3 separate regions of the Homo sapiens genome follow, and regions 2 and 3 are each linked to region 1. The links come from fine-mapping of genetic effects on plasma protein levels. A gene starts in region 1. Each other region holds a variant in brackets. All regions are shown on one strand. Distances are between the middles of the regions.

Region 1 (4,352 bases):
GCCCCATCCTATTTGACCCATTACAGAAAGACCAAAGCTAGGACATATCATATCATGTCATAACATGATAAAACCCGGGAATAATCAGACCTGTATTTTGCTGTTACCCTGACCAATAAGTCACTATATTTTGTACATAGGAAGCAATGTTATCCCATAGGGTCTTCTAAAAGGAAGTTCCATCTTCAGATTATTCAGAACCAACTAGGTCAAGATCTGCCTAACAACACAGCTTCCTGAACATATTAAGCATAAAACTCAGAGGCAAGAACCTTGAGAAACATGTGCCAAAGTTCAGGGAATGGTCAGACACAGAAAAACAATGCTTGGCTAAGGAGCTGAAGTGTGTTTCAAAGAAAACAAGAAGAGCCTGATGTCTCATTCACCTCTCCTGGACAGCTGCCTTCTTCCGAGATGCCCAGCTTATTTGCCTGGATTCATCACGAGAGAAGTAGTTTTTAGATATATTCCACCATCTAGAGAAAGGAAATATCACTTTTTTGAAGGCGAACCAAGAAGTCTGTTTTGGGGTTGATAAATTTCTGACAGTTGCTCCCAGAGTATTTTCAACTCAAAGTATAATTTCATAAAGAGGCTTATTATGTTTTAAATTGTCTGTCTGTAAAATATACTTTCATGAAATTTTGTTTTCTCGGAATCTTCCTTTTTCCTTCTTGTATGAATCTAATGAACTTGAATTTCCAAAGTCATTGAGGTAGGAAAGGTATGTAACATTATGCTTGAGCTTTAGGTCAATAATTTATACGATAGTGGTGGTTTTGTTTTGTTTCGTTTTGTTGAGACAGAGTCTCGTCCTGTCACCCAGGCTGGAGTGCAATGGCATGATCTTGGCTCACTGCAACCCCTGCCTCCCAGGTTCAAGTGATTCTCCCACCTCAGCCTCCCAGGTAGCTGGGATTACAGGTATGCACCTCCATGCCTGGTTAATTTTTGTGTTTTTAGTAGAGACAGGGTTTCACCATGTTGGCTGGGCTGGTCTCCAACTCCTGACCTCAAGTGATCCACCCACCTTGGCCTCCCAGATTCTGGAGTTTTTTAAATGGGTCACCCTATAGAAGGCATGAAGTCATAGAATCATAATAATCACCAAAACCAACCATTGATTTCAATACTAGAAAATTTGAGACACCAGAAGGTGAAGTGACTTGCCTAGAGCCATACAATGGCAGAGGCAGGGACTGCAACCCACTATGAAAGCTTAGGGCTCTTCTCACCCTTTGGTGGCCAAAAGTATTTTGAAATTTTGACCAAAAAAATTAATGTTTATTGATCACTTTAAATCCAAAAGATGAATCCACTGGATTCCACAGTAAATTGGGTGGAATGTAAGGGAGGGATCAAAGGGCAGTGAATATATGAATGGGGAGGAGAACCATTTAGCTAGGTGCAAAAGTAATTGCGGTTTTTGCAATACTTTTGCACCAACCTAATAATTGTTCATAATTCTAAGAGCTATTCGGATCCCATTAGGAGCTTAAAAGGGACAAATGTGCTCAGGGCATGCAGTTTTTGCCTTCCGGAACTAGATCAGGATCATGCATTTAAGCTAGAAAATGGAAAGAGGAGTTGCTTCACCCACAGTCAGTGCTATTGCATCAACCAATCCCTGCCATTCTGCAGTTTCCTGGTGTATCTGCCCGGAGTCACACAGTCTTTCCTGCTAAGCCTCAGCGTCTCCTCCAAGCCACATCAAAATCTTTCCTTCTGGGCCTTTCCCAGAAGTGAATTCTTGCTGGAAGGTATAAAAGACCAGCTCCTCCAAGCAGAGCAACTCCCTGGCTGCCGTGAAAAGACAAGGCACTGGGCAGGTAAGACTCGTCAACTTTCATCTTTCCTGGTTTCTGCAAAGTTGATGATGAAATTTCCTAACGTCTTCTCAGAAAGCTTAACACTGGATTTAGACTTGTCTCTATCAGGCACTTTCTGGTGCCAGCTTTAGCCACCCCATGGCACACTCCTCTTGTTTGGTATAAGAGAGAATGTAATTAAGCCTCCCCCCACCACTGTGGGGGAAAAAGGCTTTTCTGTGTCTGAAAACTATGTCAGAGAATCATAAACTCTTAGGGCTGGAAGGTACCATAGACCTCTCTTATCCACCTTGTTTAGGAACTGAGACTTAAGCAATTTAATGTGTCCAGAGTCACACAGGAATTTGGGGGAAAACAGTGACAGAATGGTGCTCCCTGTGCTGTTCTTGAGACAGTGTGATGAAATCTGGCCTCTCCACTATAGTGGAGATTTTGCAGTGTTTTAAGGGGTTCCCTAAGCCGGAGCTGTCAGGTCTTCATCTCATTTCCAGCATCTCATGCCTGCCATCTGCAGCAGATCCGACCATCTAGTTTGCCCTCAATGTCTAGTCCTAGCTGTCTTAAGTGCCCTGTGGACACCTGGCTCTCAAGCAGGTGTGTGACCTGTATGCAGCGGTAGTAGGCAGGCTTCATTTTGGGGGAATGGGGTGGTTAAATTATATTTGTTTTTTATGCAATTGTGTGCCTCAAATCTTTCAGTTGAAGTAGATTATTTCCGCTCTAGAGGGCTTGATAAGAGCTATCTCTTCATTCTCATCCTGATCTTGGAGTCACTCAAAAGATCAAGAGAGTGTTCCTGCAGGTGATGGGGCAAGAATTATGGCTTTCCTATTGGCTCACTCCACCACCCTCCACAGGGCTCTTTACAATCATGGAAGAGAATCTCACTGACTTCATCCCTTCTCAGGCCTTCCCCCTATCTCCTTGGTGACTGCTCAGCGACATTGAGAACCAAAGTCTGGAAGGCCTTGGTACTCAGAGTGTGGTCTGCAGACCAGCAACATCATCATCACCTGGAGCTTACTGGAAATGCAGACTTTCAGGCCCCTTCTATGACCTTCTGAGTCAGAATCTGCATTTACCAAAATCCCTAGGTGATAGTAGGCACATTACAGTGTGAGAGGCTTGCCGAGGGACTATCTCTGCCCTCTCCCTCTGCAACCTCCAGATGCTGAATTTCTCTGCTCTAGGAGTTTTATTCATTCAGCATGCACCCAACACCTATTATGTATTGACATGCTTAGGTCCTGGGAAAACAAATAAATAAGATGGAGCCCTTGAGGAGTTCATGGTCTGATAGGGGAAACAGATGTGAAGACAGTAATATGAGATATGGATGAAATACTGTGGGAGGACAGAAAAAGGAACGATCTAACTTTTCCTGGAGAAAACTGGTAAACTTCACAGAGGAGGTGAAATTTGGTCTGGGTTTTGAAGAATGAATAGGAGTTTATTAGCCAGAGAGGGTATTGTATAGGGAAGAGCATGAGTAGAGGCATGGGATTGTGGACCAGCCTGGCATTTGAGGGGCAAAGGCTGTGGCTCTGTCTCCAGATAGTGCTTCATGTCCCAGGGAAGGCTCCAGGCTTTGCTGCAAATCAAAGGGCTTGGGAAATGGTTTCTGCACTCAGCATGTTGATAAGAATATGGATAAATATCTACACATCACAGGAGCCTCTTGTTGGCCTCTTACACTCTAAAGCCCCAGGCCCTCTTGCCCTGTGTGGTTCTGGCTGAAGACAGTGTCCCTCTAGAATCTTTCTGCACACCCCCTTTTCAGTGACATGACCTTGTATTCACCTGGCTCTGATTTTTGTTCATACCCGTCCCTCACACCCACCAGGAACATTGCCCAAGACATGGGAAAATAATTTCTCTCTGGCCTTGAAGTCCCCCTCCTCCACTTTCCAGTGAGGAGAGCATGAAGGGGGTCCTAAAGAAGAGGAGAGGAGAATTGAATATTTAAGTATTGTTTCCTGTTCAAATTTCTCAACTTTCATGTCTTCTTCTATGATTTTGTCTTCCTCAGGCTGTCTCAGATGATGTCTTTTTAAAAAATGGACTAATTTTTTACTTTGTGTTTGTCATTTATTAGGAAACGCATTAGTCATTCAAAGAACAATATAATGAATGTTTGTGCCCACAGCCCTCTTTAAAAAAATCAGTGATATGGTGGTTGCCAGGAGCTAGGGGGAAGGGGAAATAGGGAGTTGGTGTTCAATGGGTATAGGGTTTCAGTTTTTACAGGATGAAAATGTTCTAGAGATCCATTGTGCAACATGTGAATATACCTAACATTACAGTACTGTAGAGTTTAAATGACTAGGATGCTAAATTTTATGCTATGTGGATTTTTGTTGTTGTTGTTCTTTTCTTTTCTTTTTTCTTTTTTTTTTTTTTTTTTTTTTTGAGCCAGGCTGGAGTGCAGTGGCGCAATCTTGGCTCACTGCAGCCTCCACCTCCCAGGTTCAAGGGATTCTCCTGCCTCAGTCTCCCGAGTAGCTGGAATTGCCGGTGTCTGCC
Region 2 (4,352 bases), 350 kb after region 1:
AGACCAGCCTGGCCAACATGGTGAAACCCCGTATCTCCTAAAAATACAAAAAATTAGCTGGGCATGGTGGCGGGCGCCTGTAATCCCAGCTACTTGGGAGGCTGAGGCAGGAGAATCTCTTGAACCCGGGAGGCAGAGGTTGCAGTGAGCCAAGATCCACTGCGCTCCAGCTTGGGCAACAGTGCGAGACTCCGTCTCAAAAAAAAAAAAAAAAAAAAGTGTGTGCTCTGTGGCACAGATATGAATTCCCTGTTATCTAGAATGCCCTACTCTCCAGCTGGACCAGAAAGCAGAGAGACTGCTGAATCAGAGAGGGTAGATCTGATCAGCTTCCTTTTTAAAAAAATAAAATTCTTTTGGAGATAGGGTCTGACTCTGTCACTAGGCTGGAGTACAGTGGCACAATCACAGATTACTGCAGGCTCAACTTCCCAGGCTCCAGCGATCCTCCCACCTCAGCCTCCCAAGTAGCTGGGACCACAGGCACCTGCCACCACAGCCAGCTAGTTTTTGTATTTTTGGTAGGGATGAAGTCACACAATGTTTGTTGCCCAGCGTGGTCTCAAACTCCCAGACTTCAAGCGACCCTCACACATTGGCCCCATAAAGTGAACTGAGATTGGCCAGGCGTGGTGGCTCACGCCTGTAATCCCAGCACTTTGGGAGGCCATGGCGGGCAGATCACAAAGTCAAGAGATGGAGACCATCCTGGACAACATGGTGAAATCTTGTCTCTACTAAAAATACAAAAATTAGCCGGGTGTGGTGGTGCACGCCTGTAATCCCAGCTACTCAGGAGTCTGAGACAGGAGAATCGCTTGAACCCAGGAGGCGGAGGTTGCAGTGAGCCGAGTTTGCGCCACTGCACTCCAGCCTGGCGACATAGCAAGACTCTGTGTCAAAAAAAAAAAAAAAAAAAAACCATGAACTGAGATTGCGCCACTGCAAGGAAGCCTGGGCGACAGAGCGAGACCCTGTCTTAAAAAGGAGGGGAAAAGAATCCTTAAAATCTTCAAACCCTTTGACCAAGTAATTCTGCTTCTGAGAATCCATCCTGAGGAAATAATCCAAAATGCAAAAACAAAGCATTATTTACAAGTAACTGTGTCCCTATTCATAACAGAATAAAGAATGAAGCAACCTAAAATTCAACAATAGGTGAAATCCAACTATTTTTGTTGTTGTTGTTGTTGTTGTTGTTGTTGTTGTTGTTTGAGACAGGGTCTTATTCTGTCGCCCAAACTGGAATGCAGTGGCATAATCATGGCACTGCAGCCTTGACCTCCCCAGGATCAGGTGATCCTCCCACCTCAGCCTCCCAAGTAGGAGAGGGTGTGGGTCTACAGCCGCACACCACCATGCCTGGCTAATTTTTTGTAGAGATGGTGTTTTGCCATGTTTCCCAGGGTAGTCTCCAATTCCTGGGCTCAAGTGATCTGCCTGTCTTGGCTTCCGAAAGTGCTGGGATTACAGGTGGGAGCCACCTTGCCCAGCCCAACAATTTCAAAATAAGTTTACAGGGTTTTTTTTTTTTAATAACATAGAGTAATGTTTACATTCTAATGTAAAGTGAAAATCATGACATAAAATTGCTTACACATATCGTAATTGTCACTTTTTTTTTAAGCACACAAAAAGACTAGAGGAACAGGTGGAAAAATGTCAAACTTTTTTTTGGTCTGTTCTTTGTACTTCTGAGGGAAGAGGGTGCCGAGCAGGGGAGGCCACAACAACTATGGGTTTTTCTTTGTCATCTAATGGCTATGTCATCCCATTTGCTTCTATCAGTGGTGTGAGTGCCAAACACTCTGATGCCAGCTAGGTAGTTCTTCATTATTCCCTTCATAGGAATAAAATCCACTGATCTAAAATGTCTGGCTGGGCGCGGTGGCTCACGCCTGTAATCCCAACACTTTGGGAGGCCAAGGTGGGTGGATCACCTGAGGTCAGGAGTTTGAGACCAGCCTGACCAACATGGAGAAACTCCATCTCTACTAAAAAATACAAAATTAACCAGGCCTGGTGGTGCATGTCTGTAATCCCAGCTACTTGGGAGGATGAGGCAGGAGAATCGCTTGAACCTGGGAGGTGGAGGTTGCAGTGAGCCAATATCGCGCCATTGCACTCCAGCCTGGGGAACAAGGGCGAAACTCCATTTCAAAAATATAAAAAATAAATAAATAAAATGTCTGGACATTTTCCTTCATTTTCCCTTACATACATATTTGCCAACATGAAACAAACAGCAAACTCGTCATTAGTCTCAATCACCACTAGGGCGAGGAATAAAAAG[T/G]TTTTTTTTCCAGGAGAACTGACTTCAAAGTTGTGGATTAGTGCTACCATTTATCCACAGGAAAAAAAAAAAACAAAAAAAAACTAAAACTGATATACTAGTCTGTCGTGAAAAACATATATTGGCTGGGAGTGGTGACTTACACCTATAATCCCAGTACTTTGGGAGGCTGAGGTGGGTGGATGACCTGAGGTCAGGAGTTCAAGACCAGCCTGGCCAACATGGTGAAACCCCATCTCTACTAAAAATATAAAAAATTAGCTGGGCATGGTGGTGGGCACCTGTAATCCCAGCTACTCAGGAGGCTGAGACAGGAGGATCGCTTGAACCCAGGAGGTGGAGTTTGCAGTGAGTCGAGATCACGCCACTGCACTCTATCTAGCCTGGGCAACAAGAGTGAAACTCCATCTCAAAAAAAAAAAAGAAAGAAAAAAAAATTATTGCCCTTTTAGTAATTCCCTTACTTATAATACCTAACTAAATTTAAACCAAAAAAAATTTTAATCAATTTTTTAAAAATTGAAAAAAAATTCCCACACACCAAATAAATTTGTTTTACTTAAGTTCGTTCTTTATTTATTTAATTTTTTTTTTTGAGTCAGAATCTCACTCTGTTGCCAAGGCTGGAGTGCAGTGGTGCCATCTCAGCTCACTGCAACTTCTGCCTCCTGGGTTCGAGTGATTCTTTTTTTTTTTTTTTGAGACGGAGTCTTGCTCTATCGCCCAGGCTGGACTGCAGTGGCGCGATCTCCTCTCACTGCAAGCTCTGCTTCCTGGGTTCACGCCATTTTCCTGCCTCAGCCTCCCGAGTAGCTGGGACTATAGGCGCCCGCCACCACGCCCGGCTAATTTTTTGTATTTTTAGTAGAGACGGGGTGTCACCATGTTAGCCAGGATGGTCTCGATCTCCTGACCTCGTGATCTGCCTGCCTTGGCCTCCCAAAGCGCTGGGATTACAGGTGTGAGCCACCGCACCCAGCTGTTCAAGCTATTATTGAGCTTCCACCTCCCAAGTAGCTGGGATTACAGGTGCCCGCCACCACGCCCGGCTAATTTATGTATTTTTAGTAGAGACGGGGTTTCACCATGTTGGCCAGGCTGCTCTCGAACTCCTGACCTCAAGTGATCCGCCCACCTTGGCCTCCCAAAGTGCTAGGATTACAGGCGTGACCCACCACACTCGGCCTGTTTTACTTAAGTTCTTTAAAACTCAGCATGTGTGTGTGTATGTATGAATATATGTATGTATGTATACACATGCACGAATATATGTGTATATGCATATATATGCATGAATACATATATACCTATGTGTGCATGAATACATATACATATATGTATGAATATATTATATATACGTATATGTGTATGAATATATTATATATACATATATGTGTATGAACATATATACAAACACACACACACTCTTCTTCCAGTAATTTGTGCTAAAGTCAATTCATTTCATTCGTCTGGCTGGAAATCACACACCCCAGGGTCATAGTGATGTTGTTCAACTCTCTCTGGAGTCAGTGACACTTACTTTAAACAACCCTGGTTTCCAATTAGTTTAGTTTCTGGAGCACTGGTAAATGGAATACCTGGTGTTTGTTTTTATAAGAAAAACTATCTGGGCAGTTGCGGAAAGGCAAGATGCTTTGCTTCTAACAACTGATGAGTTCTGTCTGATTAACCTGCCAGCCACTTGGGCTTTGATGTCTCCTCAAGTTCCCATGACACTGCTCTTCCTACTCACTCAGTGGGAGAACCTGCCAATCTGCATTACTCTTCTTCATCACTCACAGTCCTTTTGTCACTAGACATAAGAAGATCACTGAGTGGCCTCAGAGACACACAGAAGTCTAAAGGCATAGTGACATTAAGAACAACAAAATGTTGACCCACCTACTGGTATTTTGGATCCTGCTTGTTTCCAAACTGTCCTTGGCTCCTTGAGTGCACTGAAATTGTTCATCTGTGTTCTGTTTTCCAGGGTCACAAAGAGTCGGCAGCTTAAAAAGCAATAAACATGTTTCAGGGCTTTGATGAGAGAATTCCCACT
Region 3 (4,000 bases), 13 kb after region 1:
TGTAGCGGCAGGACCTTGGAGAACTGACTTCACCTGTCCAGGATTCAATCTCCCCCTCTACAGAATAGGCTAATGCCACCCACCTCACAAACTCCTTGTAGGGATTAAGTGCACTTGTAACATGGTAGGTAGTTAATAAGCTGTAGTTGCATCTGAATCCTCAAAGCACTTTTTCCTCTAATCTGCCCTCCCCTTCTCTCTCCATCTGTAGGCCCGGGAGGTATCTAACAAGATTGTTGGCTATCTGAATGAGGAGGGTGTTCTGGACCAAAACAGGTCCCTGCTCTTCATGCAGTGGGGTCAGATTGTGGATCATGACCTGGACTTTGCCCCTGACACCGAGCTGGGGAGTAGCGAGTACTCCAAAGCCCAGTGTGATGAGTACTGTATCCAGGGAGACAACTGCTTCCCCATCATGGTACGGCCCTGCAGCTAGGCATCTCTGACTAGCCCCTTGCCCACCCTGATGTAGCAGACATTCCCAGCTCATCAGCTAGGATCTCTGGATAGATCTGGGATACTGATTTGGTAGTTTCCCATGCCTCACGTGTCCATTCGTTCACTCATCCGTTTATTCAGTAAATAGACATTGACCACCCCATACCAGGCAGTGCACTAAGCGCTGAGGATTCCAAAGTGAACAGGACACCGCTCCTGCTCTCAAGAACAAAGGGCCAGTGTGGGAATTGGACAAGTAAACTACTGATAGCAGAATGGGAACACTGGAGAAGGTTGTCTACATTCCCGACCCAGCAGCATTGGTAAAACCTGCTTATTAGAAATGTAAAATCTCAGTTGGGCGAGGCGGCTCATGCCTATAATCCCAGCACTTGGGGAGGCTGAGGTGGACAGATCACCTGAGGTCAAGAGTTTGAGACCAGCCTGGCCAACATGGTGAAACCCCGTCTCTACTAAAAATACAAAAATTAGCCTGGCGAGGTGGCACATGCATGTGGTCCCAGCTACTCAGGAGGTTGAGGCAGGAGAACCGCTTGAACCTGGGAGGCGGAGGTTGCAGTGAGCCGAGATCACGCCACTGCACTCCAGCCTGGGCAACAGAGCAAGATTCCAACTCAAAAAAGAAAAAAGAAAAAGAAAAAAAAAATGCAAAATCTCAAGTCTCACCCAAGATGTTAGGAAATAGATTCTACATTTTTACCAAGATCAACAGAGATTCATTTTATACATGATAAAGTTTATACTGCTGTACATCATCGTGGAGGATGACTTCAACTCCACTCAGAAGGACTTGAAACCTGGATGAATCCGAGTGAGCAGCAGGGATTTGTAGGGATTTCCATCCGGAAGGGAGAGGAGCTTGCAGCAATGCATCTTTTCTTATTATTCATGGGTATTACAGTTGGAGAGTCATTTCTTCACTCAAAGAATAAATCGAGGCTATGTGCTGTGGTATAAAGAGCATAAACTGTGGAATGAAGCCAATGATCTGAATCCTACATCTTTCCCTTCCAGTGTATAAGTTCTTAGGCAACTTACTTAACTTTTCTGAGCCCCAGTTTTCTCATCTATAAAATGGAACTGAATTGTCCACCTTACAGGGTTTTTTTGAGGACTGAGATGAGTTAAAGTATGCATAATTCCTGGCACATGGTAAGTCCAAAATAAATACATGGCAGCTGTTGTTAGTAGTAATTATTAACAAACCTGTTCCCACCTCGTGTCCTGCTTTCCTGTCCAGGGAGCTCAATACTCCCTCCTCACCAGAAATTTGGAGCCCTCACTGTGAGGACTGAATGATTACCCTCAGTTCTTTCACACAACAGGATGTAATGAACTTCAGGATATTATGAGCCCAGGGTGTGTAATGTCAGCAAGAAGTGTCTGGGGTCAGTGTCTGGTACCAGGGTCCTAGGAGGGTGCCATCAGCATCTTTGCATCCAGACTTGCCCTGGGGAGAGGTTGCCAGGACCCAGCTGTTCCACCCCTGCCCAGTCACTTATGCCCACTCTCTCTGCAGTTCCCACCCAATGACCCCAAGGCGGGGACTCAAGGGAAATGCATGCCTTTCTTCCGAGCTGGGTTCGTCTGCCCCACTCCACCCTACAAGTCCCTGGCCCGAGAGCAGATCAACGCTCTGACCTCCTTCCTGGATGCCAGCTTTGTGTACAGCTCCGAGCCAAGCCTGGCCAGCCGCCTCCGCAACCTCAGCAGCCCCCTGGGCCTCATGGCTGTCAACCAGGAGGTCTCAG[A/ACCAT]CCATGGACTACCCTACCTGCCCTATGACAGCAAGAAGCCAAGCCCCTGTGAGTTCATCAACACCACTGCCCGTGTGCCCTGCTTCCTGGCAGGTGAGTCTAGCCTGGGAACAGAAGGGCCCAAGGACAAGGGGATTATCCAGGGAAGCTTTACCACTGCCCCCTTCTTGTCATCTTTCTGGAAAAATGCACACTGAGCCATTGCTGTCCCTAGCAGTGGTCCAGGACTAGCAGAAGGGCCCAGATGAATAAAGAATTCCAGAACATATGTTCACTGTAAAACAAAATCAGGAAGTCCAGAAAAGTAACAAAGAAAATAAAAAGAAAGTGCCAGGCTTGGTGGCTCACGCCTGTAATCCCAGCACTTTGGGAGGCCGAGGCAGGCAGATCATGAGGTCACGAGATCGAGACCATCCTGGCTAACATGGTGAAACCCCGTCTCTTCTAAAAACACAAAAAATTAGCCGGGCGTGGTGGCACACCCCTGTAGTCCCAGCTACTCTGGAGGCTGAGGTAGAAGAATCACCTGAACCCAGGAGGCGGAGGTTGCAGTGAGCCGAGATCACGCCACTGCACTCCAGCCTGGGCAACAAAGCAAGACTCCATCTCAAAAAAAAAAAAAAAAAAAAAAAAAAGAAAGAAAGAAAGAAAAGAAAAGAAAAAGAAAATTCACACAATCCCACTACCCACCAATAATCATCGTTAACATTTTCATGCTTATTTTCCAGTATTTTTTCTATCACAGATACAGTTCTACATTGTTTTACATAATCGGGTCTTACTATAAATAATGCTCCAAAACCTGATGTCTTCACTTAATTTACTCCATGCCATTAACTGTTCTTCTATGACGTGATTTTTAATGGCTGCCTGGTATTTCATGACACATATTACCATCATTTATTTTCTCAATCCTACTTGGGGGAATTTAGTTATTTCAAGTTTTCCTGTGTTTTGTTGCTGTTGTTTAGGTAATGAACATCTTCATTGATAAATCTTTGTTCTCATTTTTAATACATTTATTAAGCTAATTTCCCAGAAGAGGAAGTTCTAGATGAAGAGGAATGTATATTTTTAAAGCTTTTTATAACCTGGGGACAAAATCCCCATTCCATTCAGCCTGTGCACGACCAAAGCCCTGCTAATTCTGTTCATTCCAGGTGCCCTCCTGGTCCTCTCTGTCTCCGGCTTCTAGAGGCCATCCCACCCTCAAACATCCTCTCTCTTTGGACAAACCCCCTGGCCACCCTGACATTGCAGAAGGCCAGCTCTTAGGCCAAGATACCTTTATAGATCTTTTGGATTTTGTGTTCACATATATCCCACAGCAATCCAGACACAAAACCGAGTTCTTTCTTGTTTTTCATAAAAATATGCACTCACACCAAGAATTTACAATTTTAAATAGATTTCCTGGCCTGGTGCAGTGGCTCATGCCTGTAATCCCAACACTTTGGGAGGCTTAGGTGGGAGGATTGCTTGAGGCCACAAGTTCGAGAACAGCCTGGGCAACATAGCAAGACCCCTGTCTCTACAAAAAATTTAAAAACTAGCAACACATGGTGGCACATGCCTGTAGTCCCAGCTACTCTGGAGGCTGAAACAGGAGGATCACTTGAGCCCACGAGGTTGAGGCTTCAGTTAGCCAAGATAATGCCATTGCACTCCAGCCTGGGCAACAGAGCAAGACTGTCCAGATAGATAGATAGATGATGATAGATATATAGATATATAGATATATAGATAGATAGATAGATAGATAGATAGATAGATAGATAGACTCTCCTAAA

Which allele goes with the higher level. Alleles are on the strand shown, and positions count from the first base shown. The strength of an association depends on the size of the effect and on how common the allele is.
In carriers of allele T in region 2, the plasma level of the protein whose gene starts at base 1,674 in region 1 tends to be higher than with G alone (moderate association).
For the plasma level of the protein whose gene starts at base 1,674 in region 1, allele A in region 3 goes with a higher level than allele ACCAT (moderate association).

Evidence for each region. PIP is the posterior inclusion probability: the model's chance that the variant is causal. The UK Biobank Pharma Proteomics Project read protein levels with antibody pairs (Olink). The fine-mapping took linkage between variants from a reference panel, not from the people measured, so its PIPs are less certain.
Region 2: its variant is fine-mapped to the plasma level of the LPO protein (UK Biobank, PIP 0.97).
Region 3: its variant is fine-mapped to the plasma level of the LPO protein (UK Biobank, PIP above 0.99). The variant lies in the coding sequence of LPO. If it changes the protein, the assay may bind it differently, which can mimic a change of level.

Annotation. Positions count from the first base shown.
Region 1 is chr17:58,236,911-58,241,262 of GRCh38, forward strand. LPO (lactoperoxidase) reads left to right here and starts at 1,674. Exons shown (of 13, transcript NM_006151.3): 1 at 1,674-1,829.
Region 2 is chr17:58,589,360-58,593,711 of GRCh38, forward strand. TEX14 (testis expressed 14, intercellular bridge forming factor) reads right to left here. Exons shown (of 32, transcript NM_031272.5): 15 at 4,196-4,302. Among named protein-coding and RNA genes, the nearest start is that of SEPTIN4, 47 kb to the left of the region's middle. The variant T/G (reference allele first, on the strand shown) is at 2,294.
Region 3 is chr17:58,250,204-58,254,203 of GRCh38, forward strand. It overlaps LPO (lactoperoxidase), which reads left to right. Exons shown (of 13, transcript NM_006151.3): 7 at 212-418; 8 at 1,979-2,303. Among named protein-coding and RNA genes, the nearest start is that of LPO, 14 kb to the left of the region's middle. The variant A/ACCAT (reference allele first, on the strand shown) is at 2,211.